Linked DNA regions of Homo sapiens: region 2 is linked to region 1. The links come from fine-mapping of genetic effects on gene expression. A gene starts in region 1. The other region holds a variant in brackets. All regions are shown on one strand. Distances are from middle to middle. Region 1 holds the start of PPP3CA (protein phosphatase 3 catalytic subunit alpha). Region 2 overlaps PPP3CA (protein phosphatase 3 catalytic subunit alpha).

Region 1 (8,334 bases):
TGAGAAGGAAATGTCACAGGAATTAGCTTTAAGATAATAAATCAAAGTCTCATATACATTCATGGCCCTATCAGGATTGACTGTCCTACTTTGCAGGTTCCTCAGCATTGTGCTCCACTAACTTAAGTGAGGATAGAGCAGACATACTGCTGTCTACCATCAGCTACTCAGAAAAAAGTGAATGCCTCAGAAGAGTCATAATCAGAAGTTTTTTTTTATTTTTATTTTTTTTTGAGATGGAGTCTCACTCTGTCACCGAAGCTGGAGTGCAGTGGCATGATTGCAGCTCAATGCAATCTCTGCTTCCTGAGTTCAAGCAATTCTTCTGTCTCATCCTCCCGAGTAGCTGGGACTACAGGCACACACCACCACGCCTGGTTAATTTTTGTATTTTTAGTAGAGACGGGGTTTCACCATATTGGGCAGGCTGGTCTCGAACTCCTGAGCTCGTGATCCACCTGCCTCGGCCTCCCAAAGTGCTGGGATTACAGGCGTAAGCCACCATGCCCAGCCATAATCAGAAGTTACTACTCAACCGTAATGTCCAAATGATAATAAATTCATCCAAGAACCAAATACAAGTTCAAAATTTTGAAAGCCTGTTATTTTCAAAACAGAATATAACATACAATATTTTATTTTATTTTTAAAACTAAAACATCTGATAAAGCACTTAATAGTATACTAAAATGTACTTAATTTACTGTGATTTGCACCAATGGAAGCTTGCTCTGTGGAGCACTTAAATGCACAGATGACTCCAAATCCACAATATTTTCTTTTTTTGCCCACATATTTATCTTCATAATTACTTTTGATAAATCTAATAGTTTTTCTTCTCCAATAGAAAGAGGAAGTAGCACCTTATACATAAATGTTTGCAAATATAATATATATCTAATGATCATATAACAAGACTTTTAAATCCTTGAATGAAGGAACAAAATCTCTGAATCCTTCTTTACTCCCTACATTTTATGCATCATGTAGCATAGGGCACAGAACAGGTGTGGTCAAAGAATATTCATTAACAGAGAATTAAGATTTGATGCTCATGTATTAAAAGAAGTAAGAGTATTTTTAGTCTTCTGGTAGTTCTCTTATATTACAGTAAAACAATAATTCTAGGTTTTGCTAAGGAATGTACTTTTGGAACTAACATATTACTTTCGTATATTAATTTGGTAATATTAACTAGTCTAACAAACATATCTCCACATTGTAATGGAGTAACACAATAAATGAGTAAAGCCTAATGCCTATTTTCTTAGTAACTGGGTAGTATTCCTCTATGTGGTAATTAAGGGACTCTCGTCTTTGTCTCTGGGGTTCTGCCTGCCCTGGGTCTTAGAAGTCTCTGCATTCCGCTAAGGATGGGAGCCCATAGACTAGAAAATGTATATCTACTGCTTAACTGCCTTGTCCTGAGAGTGACCAACCATCTTAGTCCACAGTCCATTGATCAGAACTGGTCACATGGACCTTCTTCGAGGAAAGAAGGGTCAGGCTAGAAATGGGAATCCCTCTCTGGGCAGACACTTCCCAGAGTGAATTATACTAAGGGAGGGAAAACACATTTTTTTGGTAGACAAAAAGTTGTCTTTTTTCAAGCTTTTCCCCCCTCCTATTTCTTGATAAGCAGGACATTGCCAAAGTCAGCATCTGGGAACTGAAGTAACCCCTTCAAAATGTAAATTCCAAATATAAAGTATTCTCATGCAAGCAGTAATATAATTATGGACTGCTAGGGCAGTCTAACACGGAGGTTCCCAACCCCTGGGCCACAGAACAGTACCAGTCTGTGGCCTATTAGGAACTGGACTGTACAGCAGGAGATCTGCAGCAGAGTGAGCAAACATTACTGCCTGAGCTCTACCTCCTGTCAGATCAGCAGTGGCATTAGATTCCCATAGGAGTGCAAACCTTACTGTGAACCGTGCATGCAAGGGATCTAGCTTGCCCGCTCCTTATGAGAATCTAATGCTTGACGATCTGAGGTGGAACAGTTTTATCCTGAAACCACCCCCAACCACCATCCATGGGAAAATTGTCTTCCGCGAAACCAGTCCCTGGTGCCAAAAAGGTTGGGGATCTCTGGACAGGACAGAAAAAGAATGGCAGTAGGAGAGGGTAGGACATCTGAAACAGTAACCGAATAAAAAAGATGATCTGTCTGTCTACTTCAGGAGGTCAGGTGTATGAACACAAGTAGTCCCTAGTTAATATGCTGCCGTCCTGTTTCCTTAGAGCAGGATCCAATTTTGTTTAAGAGGTGTCAGTGTTGCAGCAGTTATGGAATCATACACAGGCATTAAAAGTTCATGTTGATAATGTGTTGGGAAGTGATTGTGAGTCATAACTTTTTCTTCCCATACATACCTTAGCTAGGAGGTGTCCTAGACTTGTAGCGGACTAAAGGGTGTGCCTGAAAGGTGTGCCTTTATTTCCTATCTGTATCATGTAATTTTATATGGTGCTGACATTTTAAGCCTTCTGATCTTGGTTCAAAGATGTTTATCCTATACCTAGTAAAAAGTTATTCCAAATAAAGGTGGGAACTTCATTTTTTTCTAATATGTAGGAGAGAATGTCTTGGCCTTGGAAATGAGCATCCCTGGACATGGTTTCCTGGTCTTTCTGAAGCAGGCCCTCTTCACCCACAGGTCTTGGCATCGCTCCCTGTGTGCCATCTGGCCAGGGACCAACTTCCCAAATCTGCCTTAGCAACTAGCTCTGCCCGTGCTCAGGAGGCTGTTTCCAACAACCCCTTCCTGAGATTACAGTGACCTCTCAGAGCTCATAATTTTATGTTCTCTGAAAATTTTAGGCTTTATTGAGGGCAAGGACAATTTTCAAATACACTCCCTCCCCACCTAATTACCCACCACAAAGTCTGGCATATAAATAAAAGGAGTACAGAAAATATCTTTATTGAATGAATTGTCTAATTGCCACCCAGTATCCTGGGGTTGGAAATTGGGCAGCAGAATCTCAGTGCCAGTGGCAGCCTCCCTATCTTGGTGGGACACACCCTGCGTCTGCTCCTTTTGCTAGGCCTCCACAGAGGTATCTAGTGTGTGTTTCTATTCCGTGCAGTCCACATCAAAGTCACGCTGCAGCACAATCAGTCTCTTACTCAAAATTGATTTTCAAGTTTGAGCTTTAATCTAATCCTTGTCTCCAAAACATTTCTTTTGGCTTCATCTCCCAGCTCCCTAAACTTTTTTTTTTGTTTTTGTTTTCTTTGTGTGTGTGTGTGTGTGTGTGTGTGTGTGTGTGTATTTTAAACCTTTTATTGGACCCGTGGTCCAATTGAGGAAATAGGAAAAACCTGATACTGAAGGACTTTGGAAATAAAACAGGAAACATGAAGGGTGAGAAATTTATTCAGATTTCTTCATAATTCCCCCCAAAAGCTCCAACCACGTTGCCAGTCCTTGGGTGCTGCAGTTGGTCGGGGAGAGGGGCTGTGTGGAGGTCACCTTCTGGTAGACGGAGACCCGCTTTTCAGACTCTGTGGCGCAGCAGGCGGGCCAGGAACATTTGGGCCACTATTGCTCTTAGCCCTGCCGCGCCTGACTTTCTCTCCTCTACTTTCCTTCCGACCGTAGGGACAAGTGTGGGGATCCGCTTTGGGCTCCAAGGCCCTGCCCGCACTGGCAGCACCAAGCGGGTGTAGAATGACTGGAAGGAGCAGGGAAGGAAGATGGGTGTCAACTGTCCCGGCCAGTGGCTGCGTGCATGTGTGTGTGAACAGGGAAAAGGCCACCCTCTCCCATGTTTCTCCCGTCTCCTCGGTTCTCCTCGGAGACCCGCAGGGCTGCCCGAGGTAGCTCCGAGTTGCCCTGGGTCGCTGGGGCTTGGTCCGCATCCTCCTCCGCTAGTCCGCTCCCGCGTTCCACAGCGCCCCGCCGCTCGGTGTGCACGCCTGGGTGGGACACAGTAACAGCCCCTAAGCCGCCAACGCAAAAGCAAAAACAACCGTACACCGCATCGCAGTCGTAGCTCTTCTCCGCAAGGTAAGTTGTTTATTCGTCGCCGTTTTGGCGATCCTCCCTGGACAGCTGCGGCAGCGACGGCAGCTGCGCCGCGGGCGCCGAGCTCCCAGCCTCTTCCTTCCTCCGCCCTCTCAGGGCTGCCTCTCACCCCCACCCTCTTCCCTCCTATCCCCGCCTTCTCTCTTCTTGCCCTCTTGTGGGCCACGCACACACCCGGAGACACCCTCTGCACTTGGCTACTCACACTGCGGCTTAACCCAGCCGACAAGGCACGCTTGCCAAAGAGGCGCGGGTGTGTGTGTGCGGGGTCCGCGTTCGGAGGCCAAAGGAGGGTGGCGTGGTAGAGCCCTTCTCCTCCTGGCCGCGACGCCTTGCCCACTCTCCTGCCCTAATCTCGGCCTGCCAGCAAAAGTGACACCTGAGCAGGGACTGGTCCGTAGAGGCGGCAGGCCCGCTGGTCCGGCAGCTGGAAGAAAACAGAGCAAGGGGCGGGGACAATGAGGAGGAGCGGGAGGCGGGACAAGCGGGGAGGCCGCCACCTGGCACTGAGTGATGCGCCCTCTAGCCAATGAACGCGAGGAACTCCGGCGTCGGGGCGGGAGGTCGGGGGCGGGCTCAGTGGGGAGGAGGAGGCTGCAGGCGCGCAAGAGGCGGGGGCCGGGAGGAGGAAGGGGAGGAGGCGGAGGCGGGCGCGGTGTTGGCGGCGGCGGCGGCGGCGGAGGGGGGTAGGTTGTGCCCGGGACTGTGTCTGCCGAGCTCGGCGGCTGTGCCTTGGTGAGTGGAGGAGCGGCGCGGGGAGGCAGAGGCGAGCGCGGGCGATCGCGGCGGCGGGACGTCTCCGGCGGCCGCGGCACCAGCGGCGGCGCTCTGTGTGGAGAAGCAGGGGCAGCGGCAGCAGCAACAGCGGCAGCGGCAGCAGCAGCGGCAGCAGCGGCGGCCGCCTCTCCGCCGCCGGGGACGCCAAGGTGCGGCTGGTGGCACTGACATCGGCGGCCCTGCCTCTCCTCCCTCGCCCCCGGCCTTCCCCATGTGATCGGTCTTAATCCTGGCCGTGTGTGCGCGCGTGGGGCTCCATTCCGCGGTGCTGGGTCTCCGTGCCGGGGTGGGTGCTCGTGTGTGCGCTTCTCCTCCCCATCCCCCTTCCCCCAAGAATAAAAGAAGAACCGGGAGGCGTGCTCAGAAAATAAATAAATAACCACCACACACGCGCAGCCCGGAGCGAGTCGGCGGGGCTGGCGGCAGCGGCGGAGGAGGAGTGAAGGCGGCGGCGGCGGAGGAGGGACGCGCGGAAAAGGCAGCAACTTTAAAGCCAGCTCAGAGCCTAGACCTCCAGCCGAGCGGTTTGCAGCGCGGCGGCGGCGGCGGCGGCGGCGGCGTTGAGTGTCTGGCCCGCCGGTCCGGTCGGGGTGTGCAGTCGGACGGACGAGCAGCGCGTCGCTGTCCTCCGGCAGCTGGAGATGTCCGAGCCCAAGGCAATTGATCCCAAGTTGTCGACGACCGACAGGGTGGTGAAAGGTAAGCGGAGCGCCGCGGTGGCCTGGGTGCACCGTGTGCCGCAGGCGCCAGGGCAGCTTGCCTCGCCTCGCCTTTCCTCCCCTCCCCCGCCCCAGGTTCTCCTCTGTCCGCTCCAGCCGCGGACCTTCTAGGATATTGTGCAACCCGCGAACCCCGCGAACCCCCCGCCCCCGCGGCGCCCTTCCCCCACGCGTCCCACCCAGCCTCACTTGGGGCATTTTTATTGACGGGGGCGTCAGTTGGCAAATGGCTGAGCCGCGGGGAGGTGGCGGCGGGGGTGGCGGTGGTGGGAGGGGGCGCCCGGGGGGTGGTTGCTGGTAGGGTGTAGCTGCTGTGACAGAAATAGGAAGTGGGTGGCTCTGCTCACAGGCTTGCATGGGATCGGGTTTATGGTTTTCTTCTGCAGAGGGAGGGGTGATTGATGGCTTTTTAAAAATTAATACGGCATTTTTATGTGGCCGTGGCTTTCCACCGACTGCCTCACTTGGGCAGGGTTGTCTTGGAGCTCCATTGCAGCAATTCCCTCCGCGCCCCCCTCCCCCTCCCCCTCCCCCTGGAAGGGCCTGCACAGGACTCGCGAGAGAGCGGGAGAGCGTGGGGGGAGCCCGGCGCTTCCTTCCGCGCGGGGCGGGGGCGGGGGCGGTCGCTGGCTGGAGGGTGGCCGCGGGGGGCGCGGGAGGCGGGGAACGACCTGAGAGCACCAGCCGTTGCCGCCCCGGGATTTCCCCCGCACGCCCCGGGGAGAGACACGAAAACCACTTCTCCAGCCTCTCTTGCCATCCCCGGCTGTCCCCCGCCGACCTGTCATTGCTCTTAAAGGGTTCTCCACTCGTGCACACCTCCCAAGTGATAACCTCATTCCGCCTGCTTCCTCCGTGCCCTGGCATCCTTTTTGTAACGGGCTGTTGGATTCCTATTATTGCCTCCTCTTCGCCGCCTACGGGATGATAAACTCCTGGCAAGGATGCACTGAGGTTGCTGGCAAAGAGAAACTGGGATGTGCGGAGTGAGGAAGGGGACAGGCTGTGGTTGATCACTCTGTCGCACGGGAATCTATCGGCCTCCTTGTATTCCTAGGTGTAGTGGGGGAGGAACCATCCTATGAATCCTGGAAGGCTGAGGCAACAGAGCAGAACCACTTGGATTAAGTAGTATCTCACATTCCTGGGGGTCAGGACACCAAGCAAAGCAGAGATGGGCATGAGCTGTGCGGGGAGCGGGCCTCTGAAATTGGAAACAGCACTGGCTGGTGTAATGTGTGTGTGTTGTGTGTAGAACAGAGATGGTATCTAATGTGGCCAGAGCATGCAACTAGAGTGCAAGGCAATCAAGTCGTTTGCACCATGAGCACTTAAAAGTGAAGTAACCCAGCAGCCCAAAGACCATGATACACAAGTCCCTCTGGGGTTTCAGAAATGATTCTTTCTCCTTAGAGGTTTACTCAGTTTTTAAAGTAATTTTTCTGTGTGAGTGGTGGTGGTGATGGGGGAAATTACGTTCCCTTTTTTCAGAAAGAACAAAATATCTTCTTTTGTTTTGGTTTTACTGGAATCATTCCTGCTTCAGCTTCGGTGCAGGATTCATATACCCATGAAAATAATGAGGAAATAGCTCTGCAAAAATGATTCGAAATAGGGCTGCAGAGAGATGCACAGCTATTTTATTTTTCCTGCAGGCATGGATTTTCATGGAAACAGTCCATTCACATTTATTTGAGAGAGCTGTGTTTTGCATGAAAGGCTTCTGTTGACATTTTCAAAAATTGAGACCCTTTGCAGAAATATCAGAGAATGACAATTATCTCCTTAATGTGTGAAGTTTAGATGTAGCTCCAATCTAGGTTAAGATCAAAACAATGTAAAGCTTATAATTCAAATGATACTAGTGAACGTGTTGGCAATTAAAAAAACACTTGTGCACACATAAGGTCACATTCCCTGTTTTAAATCATAGGATGTGGATTCTTAATGTAGGTGTAAAGTCATCAGGTGAACATGTAAAAATAAATGTTTATACTTTCTGGCTTAGTTTCTCTACTGCTTAAAATGGAAGAGCCCACTCAACCATTCCAAGGCTACTTTGCCTTGCTTTTTTTCAATACTGTACCATTATAAATGACTTTTCATTTTAGGTACACACACTCACCCATAATTTAAAAAATTTTATTCACATACTATGTGGATAGTAGACTCAAAATAGGAAAAGTTAATTTTGCATTTGTTTTGATAGAGATCCTGATGTGAGATGTGAAATGTGAAATTTTGTTTATAGAAGTTTTGTTGATGAATCCTGATTTTAAGGTGGATACACTGTTATTGTTTATCCTGTTTTCTTGTAGAATATTATTGGCATGAAAGGCATTATACAAGGTTGGATTCAACCTTTTGTCATACATAAGATTTTTATTATTAGTTATTTGAGATAATCTATTTTGATTATTAGCTTTCTGTGAAATAATATTTCCCCTTGAGTATGTATACACGTACTGAATGAATGGAAAGTACGCGTATGCTGGATGTGAAACATATTAACAAGTGATTTAATTTGCAAAAATTAGATAATATGGAGTTTAGAAACCATTATTTACTTGAAATTTTGTTAGAACTTCATCTCAATGGCTATTTAACTCATTCTTTAATACAGAAAAGAAATTATCTTTGAGGAAGTATTTGTGCTCCATAAGTTTTCTCTTTTTTACGAAGTATGTGTAGTATTATTTACTATATATACATACAAAAATAAATATTCAGATTGTTATTACCATGGCATGCCATGGCATTTGCTTACAGTTATATTTATTAGTGTCATCTGGCTTTTGTTG
Region 2 (8,334 bases), 310 kb after region 1:
AAAAAAAAAAAAAAAAAAAGAAAAAGTCTTTTCATGGTCTCTTGTTCATTAATCATCTAAAATCCAAGCACAGAGAATTCAATTTTAGATGGTCTCCAGAGCAGAATTTGATGTATAATCTTAATTACAAATCATAGATAATTAATATTGTTTACAAAATCAGAATACGATTAGAGGTAGGGATCCTGCACACACCCTATTTTCCTCCCCAGTGTTCTGACCGAGAGACTAATTAATAATTCAAGGAACTTACAGTGAATGAGAACCCATGGTTTTGCTTAATTATCAGAACAGCTAGATCTGAGAACAGCTGTCTCCCACATGGATAGACACTTATTCCACCCATTTGCAGGTAGAATAGCTGGCAATAATAAGTCCTTCCCATTGGATATGTTGAAAGGTGCCTGCCATGGCATAGTTGCCACAAGAGAGGAAGAAATGGACACAAATGTAGGCTGTTTTCAGGGCAGAGGGAAGGTGGGAGGAAACCAGCTTGCTGGTTTTCACACACCCTCTGGGGAACACCCATGCACCTATGAGATGGGTTTGTGTTAGCATCACCTCTGAAAGATTACCCACCCAGGCAAAGAAAGTGACCCATATGTTTTCACTTTCTTGGAGTGGAGGGCAAAAAAAAAAAAAAAAAAAAGCAAAGACCTTTTTTCTAGCCATTTCAAAATTGTGTGTGTTGTACAAGTTTTCTTTCTCATGGAAATGTTGGCATATTAATTGATCCACACAATCAAATAGATTAGAAATGGTGTTCATAAAAGCCCTCTAAGGGAAACAGTAGAAATCTTTTTTTCAAAACCCTTCTGTGAAAGCTTGCTGTTACCACAAATTATAATAAAAGACCAAAACACATACCAGTTATCATCTATAGACTACCGTCCCTGAGCAAATTACTTGACTCAAACTGTTCATTTGGATTAGGAACATTTCTGTTATTATTTGAAAAGAATATTCTGTTGTATATCTATTAGAGGCAGTAGAATTAGACGATCTGCTTGTGTTAATGCTTTCTATAAAATCCCACATAATGAATAAAAAGGATAGCTTATCCATTTTACCTTGGATTATAAAAATCTTGACCAGGTGCGGTGGCTCACACTTGTAATCCCAGCACTTTGGGAGGCTGAGGCAGGCAGGTCATTTGAGGTCAGGAGCTTGAGACCAGCCTGACCAACCTGGTGAAGCCTGTCTCTACTAAAAATACAAAAAAAGTTAGCTGGGCCTGGTGGCACATGCCTGTGCCAGCTACTTGGGAGGCTGAGGCAGGAAAATCACTTGAACCTGGGAGGCAGAGGTTGCAGTGAGCCGAAATCGCACCACTACACTCCAGCCTGGGTGACAGAGCGAGACTCTGTCTCAAAAAAAAAAAAAAAAAAAAAAATTTGTGAGGTATTTTTTCTGTTTTATACTTCTTCCAATGTACCTCGGGAATTAAAAGAAAAAATAAAATGGGCTCATTGAAGTATTACTTTAAAACATTATTTTAAAATAATATGTTTATTTGTAACAATAATCTATGTAATTAATTTTTTTAATTTAGAAAATGTAACAAGTGGTAAGACTTACCCAGAAAAACCATGCATAACTTTCAAAAATAGTACTAAAATGCAAACCATGGTGCCATTGTCTCTTACTAAATCCAATTTAGCAGTTCTCTACTCTTTTCTCTAGAACTCATGAACCAACCAGAAGATGAAAGAGTATCAAGTACTCAAACAATCATCATCAAATAATTATGAATGATGTTGCAAGGCAGATAGGGAATTAAGAGACTTCTTAGTTTAATCACATCAAAGGAGAACTTTTGGAAAAGCAGTTTCCTAAAGTAGTTTTCCCAGCATGGAGACTGCAAATGAATAGAAGATGGTGATAAGGTACTTAACTCTTCCTCCCAATGCGTGGTCTCTGTATAAATAGAAAAGAAGGGGAAAGTCAATTGGAAGAGGAGGATAGGAACCTACCCCTCTCTGCTCAGTGATTTTCCAGTTAGCTTCTTACTCACCTCCCCTCTGGATATCTCGAAAGTTTTTCTTTGGCACTATGGGGACCTCTCAAAAATCACATCCTAGTATTGGTGGCCAAAAGCTTAAATTTTCAAATTTGATTTACAGATAAATCCTCTTAAGGGGGAAAAAAAAAAAATACTGATTTTGCTTACTGGAGTCTGTTGTATGTGTAAATGTGTAAAATCAATTACAATTAGATAAAAAATTACTGACCACTGAACTCTGTTTGAAAATACAGGTGCAACAGCTGCAGCCCGGAAAGAGGTGATAAGGAACAAGATCCGAGCAATAGGCAAAATGGCCAGAGTGTTCTCAGTGCTCAGGTGGGTGCATTCGTACTCTGTTTTTGTTTCAAATTGTATTATGTGTCACCTAATAAATACTTTAATACTTTCATCTGGTAATTTAAATATTTTACTAGAGAATATTTGTCTTTTTTTCCTTTTAGATTAAAAATTGAGGAAAATTAAATGAGAAATTGTCAGTTTCTCACTATTTTAGTTAAATTGCAATCTACTAAATTATTTCTGTTAAGAAAGTCTCGAATTGCATCACATTTTATTCCTCTATTTGCTATAGGACTTTAAAACATTGATTTCACGGTAGGTTGAATATCTTAGGAAACAGGAAAAGCTATTGTAATTTTTTTTGTTTTGTTTTTCGTTCTGGCTCGTGGTGAAAGATGTATTTATCAGACACATTTCACTAGATTTCTAGGAAATGAACATCAGCCATAAAGCTGTTCATGTGAATCTATGTTATTCTAATTATTGAGAGAAAAATTACTGTTTCAATTTCCATATAGTAGTATATTTTGTAGATTATGAATCATATTATTATTATTAAGCATTAATTTAGAAAACAAATATTTTCTTGAAGGAAACTCCAGTTATTTCTAAATAATACAATGTAACATTTCTCTTCAAAAGATTACTTTAAAATATGATATATTTATATGTAAGGAGTCTACAGTCAATTCAAAATGATACATATTAGCGAGTAAATAGGAACACCTTGGGAAATATTACATCTACAATTGGATAATTTAATAATCAAATTTTTTGCCAAATTTTTGCCCCAACTCTTTCTCATAGAGTATCGACACTGGCTCTTTTGATTTCTCCTCTTGCTATTTCTATCCTCTTCCTGGTACAGTCACTAAAGAGTAACTGAATGACTTAATGCCAAAAGAGGTAGCCATGAGAAGGATGAAAAGCATTATCATGCTCTCTCAGAGACACCACATCAAAGGCAGTGAGAACTCTGTGGTAGCCAGCACATTCACGACCAGCCATGTTCAAGCGGAAAATAGGGCATCATTGCTCCCTTCCGTTATTGAATGAGGCTACCTTTGCTCTATTGCTGTACGTTTCCAACTACATTTTCAGGGCTTATTCATTCATGCCATAAGTAAATATAGTGAAACTTAAAGCATTGATTATGTACCATGGAGAAAAGAAATAAGGCAATGTAGAGATGGAGCAAGTGGGAGATAAAGAACTTCTTTTAGTGTGTGGTCAACAAAAAACTTTCTGAGTAATGGTATTTGGGCAAGCATAGGTGACCTTCATGAAGAAATGAGGTAAGGGAGTTCAAGGCAAAGACAATAGCAAGTGCAAAGATACTTAAGTAAAGACAAAACTGGCAGTTTTGAGGACCACAAGGAGGCCTGTATGGCTAGAAAAATGTTCTGTGGGGACAAAGGCGTATATGAAGGTCATAAGCTTAATTGGAATTCTGAGTAAACACTTGTTTATTTATTGTGCCTCAGATTTACCAATAATGCTTTTATTTCTTATTCTGTCTGAAGTCTCTGAGGGAAAGTAAAAACAGCTCTAGAATTTCCATGACTATCCCGTGATAAATGGACTATTTGAACCCAGTGATGAGTGACTTGACTTAAAATTGCACATGTTAATAGAAAATAAAAGCAAGCTCTATATTATTGTTTTTCTATAATAAAAGCATCCATAACACATATGCAGAATATAGAGAGATCCTATCCAGAAAAAAGTAAGTTAAGCTTAGTAAATAATGATTGAGCATTAACTGTATACCATGCACTGAATTAGGCAATCTAGATACCAAATTGGAATGCCAGCCAGATAGACAATAAACTAACAAAAGAAAATAAAGTGGCCGGGCGTGGTGGCTCACGCCTGTAATCCCAGCACTTTGGGAGGCCGAGGTAGGCAGATCACAAGGTCAGAAGTTCGAGACCAGCCTGAGCAACATGGAGAAACCCTGTCTCTACTAAAAATACGAAAATTAGCCGGGCATGGTGACACGTGCCTGTAATCCCAGCTACTCAGGAGGCTGAGGCAGGAGAATCTCTCAAACCCAGGAGGCGGAGGTTGCAGTAAGCCGAGATCGCGCCACTGCACTCCAGCCTGGGTGACAGAGCAAGACTCCATCTCAAAAAAAAAAAAAGAAAAAAAAAGTGTGTGCTAAATAACTACATGAATAGATACCCTGCTGTGGCATTAGACAGGAAGGAACCTTGTGTTTCCTGACTGGAGTGTTCATAAAGAGGTTAAAATTGGAGGAGTGCTGTGAAGGATAGGCTGGATTCCAGGGCAGGGAGAGATGTGGTGAAGGCATTCCTGGAAGTGGAAAAATTATCAGGAGCACAGCCACACAATCCTAAGAGCACTATCAATGGCATCCTTTTATGGGGCACTTGCTAAGTGCCAGGTTCATGCCCCATGTTATGCACATTTGACAATCATCGACACAGGAAGCTTGCAAGGTTGTGGTGACTTCACTTT[G/C]CTGTGAGGAAATTGAATCTGAGAGAGGCTAAGCAGAGTGTCCAAACTCCCTCAGTTGGGGAGCAACACTAATGAGAGTCTTACTCAAAACTGTGCTATGTAGTCTAGTATAAATTCTTAGCAATACTAGTAGTCTAGTAATGAATTCTAAATGTATTAAAGGACTGACTAGCAAAAGACATGAAGGTGAGTGAGGAATCTAGTTTAAAAGGAGACTGAAAATATACTGAAGTCCATATCCTTGAGTGTTTTGAATAGCATGTTAAAACATTTAATTTTTGTGTGTGTAGGCAATCAGGAGTTGTAGAATTATTTTCGTGAGATTAGAGGCATGCTCTAACCCATGTTTCACTATACATGTTAATTGCAACGTGAAGATTGGCTAGCAAGGTGACGTATGGATAATGAAAAAAGTGAATAAATATAAAATAAAATGTAAATTAAAAAAAAAAACCATTTAGGAAGCTTTTGAAGTAATCCCAGCAAAAGGCTGGACCAGGCTATGGGGAGAGAAGTGCAAAGGAAAGGACAAATACAAGGAATTTGGGAAAACAGGACGTGATTAATGAATGTGGAATGTGGTACAAATTTGTCAGGTATACTTGCCCAACATGTTTCTTACGTTTTGGAAATGTGCAACCTTATAAGGGAACCAGAAAACTGTCTTTCAGCAGTCCTTGCAGATAAAATACAAGTCTGTTGCCTAGGGTTTGCCAGTCAGATAAATGCATGTAAGCAAGGCTTTGTTTCAAATTGAGCATCATGAGGAAGCAGCAAGGCAGGACAACAATTGTCCTGTCAGGTGTGGAATCTCATGGGCCAGCAGTGGAAGAGCTTCCACCTCAGCATTTTGGGAGCTAACTACACAGCATTAGTATGAGCTCTGGCATTGGCTGTGAACATCAGTGGCAAGCCTTTCATGGAGCCCACCCCACAGTATGAACAAGTACTGTTACCCTTCCCAGCTACAGAGCATCGAAGCCCAGTTCTCTGGATCTGTGAGCTCTCTAATACCTTTAATATATCTCTTTCCTGTTAAAATTAGCCAGAATAGATTTCCGGTGTTGGCTGTGAGAACCCTTACCTATATGAGAGGCTACAAGAGAGAGGAAGTATTCCAGAATATTCTACAGGGGTTCCAGTCTATGCCATTGATAGGATGCCATTGTCTAAAGAAGAGGAAGTACTTTTCAATTTAAATACCTAACAGGTATTTATCGGGAAGAGTAGGATGCACTGAATTTGGCAGAGCATTTATGTAGAGGCACTTAGAAATTCTGCCCTGGAGGTTCAGAGAGAGGCGAGGGTTAGAAATGTGGACATAAGGCTGGGTGCGGTGGCTCACGCCTGTAATCCCAACACTTTGGGAGGCCAAGGCGGGTGGATCATGAGGTCAGGAGATCGAGACCATCCTGGCTAACATGGTGAAACCCCATCTCTACTGAAAATACAAAAAAATTAGCTGGGCGTGGTGGCAGGTGCCTGTAGTCCCAGCTACTCAGGAGGCTGAGGCAGGAGACTGCCATAAACCCCGGAGGCGGGGCTTGCAGTGAGCCGAGATTGCGCCACTGCACTCCAGCCTGGGCAGCAGAGCAAGACTCCATCTCAAAAAAAAAAAAGAAAGAAAGAAAAAGAAATGTAGACGAGAGTAAACAACACAGAGACAAGAGTACAGCAATGTAAGCTGATGGTCTTGCTAAAGGATAGCGTGAAAAGTGAGAGGAGAAAAATAAAGAATTCTTCAGAACATTGCTTTCCAATAGAAATAAAATGTGAGCCACATCTGTCATTTTAAATTTTCTAGACACCACAGTAAAAGGGGTAGAAACAGAAACTAAAGAAATTATTATAATACAGTCTGTTTAACACAAGTCTCCAAAATTTTATCACTTTGACATTTGATCAATATAACACTTATTAAAGGGACATTTTCTATTCTTATATTTGTACTACATCTTTGAAATCCCATGTGTATTTTACACTTACAGCACATCTTAATTCGACTAGTCATGTCTCAGGTGGTTAACAGCCACATGTAACTGGGGCCTACATATTAGAAAGCACGGATCTGGAGATAGAAGAAAAAGATCAGCCTAGGAACTGAAAAGATGTCAGAGAAGGAGAAGGAGAAGCAGGAGAAAAAAGCATTACAACACCTAGGGCAAAGAGTCTTTCAGGACGGAGGGCATGGTCATCAGAGGAAATTACTGCAGAGATATCAGTTTGAATGAGAATTCAGCAGAGATAGTTGGAATTGAAAAATGAAGAAGCTGCTAGAAACCTTTGAGGGCATGGCTTCCGTGTGAGGCAGGAATGGCAGTCACAATTAAGGGAAGTAAGGAATGTGGTTGAACAAGAAAGAAAAAAAGAGCAAGGAAGGAAGGAAAATGACCATCTTCTATGCTGGGGCTTTTGTAACAGTGTATCATTTAATCTTCATGGAAATCCCATAATTACAGTTGTGATTTTATAGATAAGGAAACTGAAGCCCAAGAAAGTTAAATGATGTCCCAACATCAGTCTTATGACTGAGATGTTAGCCTGAGTGTGACCCCCACAAAGATGTGATTTCCCAAAAAGATCTTCCTACTGTTGGTACAAAATTAAAATTTTGAAGATTAAAAAGAATACTTCAGATTACCAGAAGAGTTTTGTAGGTAAAAAGCTAATAATTTACTTGGCTTTCTCAGAGCATTATGGGTTGTAATTGTTTTTTTTGATGAGTCCCATGTTTTTGGGGGGGTTTTGTTTTTTTGTTTTGTTTTGTTTTAAGACGGTCTCGCTCTTGCGCTCTGGCTGGAGTGCAGTGGCACGATCTCTGCTCACTGCAACCTCCACCTCCTGGGTTCGAGCAATTCTCATGTCTCAGCCTCCCAAGTAGCTGGGATTACAGGAGCATGCCATCACACCCGGCTAATTTTTATATATTTTTTAGTAGAGACGAGGTTTCACCATGTTGGCCAGGCTGGTCTCAAACTCCTGGTCTCAAGTGATCTGCCCACCTCTGCCTCCCAAAGTGCTGGAATTACAGGTATGAGCCACGGTGCCCAGCCTGAATCCCATATTTAATACAGGATTTGACACCAAGATTTTGTATGTAGGAATTATAATCACTCATGAGGCAAAAGCCATATTTTGAATATGAATGTAAAAGAAAATTGTGTTCGTTCTTTAGAGGTACTCCCAATTTTCCCAACTCATATTATCATTCAATGTATTTCTTCATGGGACCTCTAGTGGTTTGACAGACCACAGAAGCTTAAAAAGTTTGAAATACATGCATGAAAATAAACAATAATTAATTATCTCAAACCTATTATTTTTAAGTAAACTTTGCAGTAGAGGATACAGAAATCTAAAATATGGATTAACATTTCCATTCTCCATTCAACTTTTACTGTTTTATTTTTGGCAAATATTTTTGAAATGTGAGCTATGTACCAGGTACTGTTCTAGTCTGGGTGCTGTGGATGCAGCAGTGATTAAAGCAGACAATAACCCCTGCTCTCATGAGGCTTGTCTAGCTGGGGGAGGGGGTGGGGGCATGG

What was found.
Region 2: its variant is fine-mapped to the expression of PPP3CA in whole blood (TOPMed, PIP 0.97).

What each region holds. Positions count from the first base shown.
Region 1 is chr4:101,343,918-101,352,251 of GRCh38, reverse strand. It overlaps PPP3CA (protein phosphatase 3 catalytic subunit alpha), which reads left to right and starts at 4,726. Exons shown (of 14, transcript NM_000944.5): 1 at 4,726-5,513. The coding sequence starts at 5,456. PPP3CA-DT (PPP3CA divergent transcript) reads right to left here and starts at 4,475. Exons shown (of 2, transcript NR_033874.1): 1 at 4,243-4,475; 2 at 3,369-3,928. RefSeq lists silencers at 4,491-5,100, 5,571-5,930, 5,951-6,340.
Region 2 is chr4:101,034,489-101,042,822 of GRCh38, reverse strand. It overlaps PPP3CA (protein phosphatase 3 catalytic subunit alpha), which reads left to right. Exons shown (of 14, transcript NM_000944.5): 11 at 2,257-2,341. Among named protein-coding and RNA genes, the nearest start is that of LINC01218, 160 kb to the right of the region's middle. RefSeq lists an enhancer at 1,524-2,143. The variant G/C (reference allele first, on the strand shown) is at 4,787.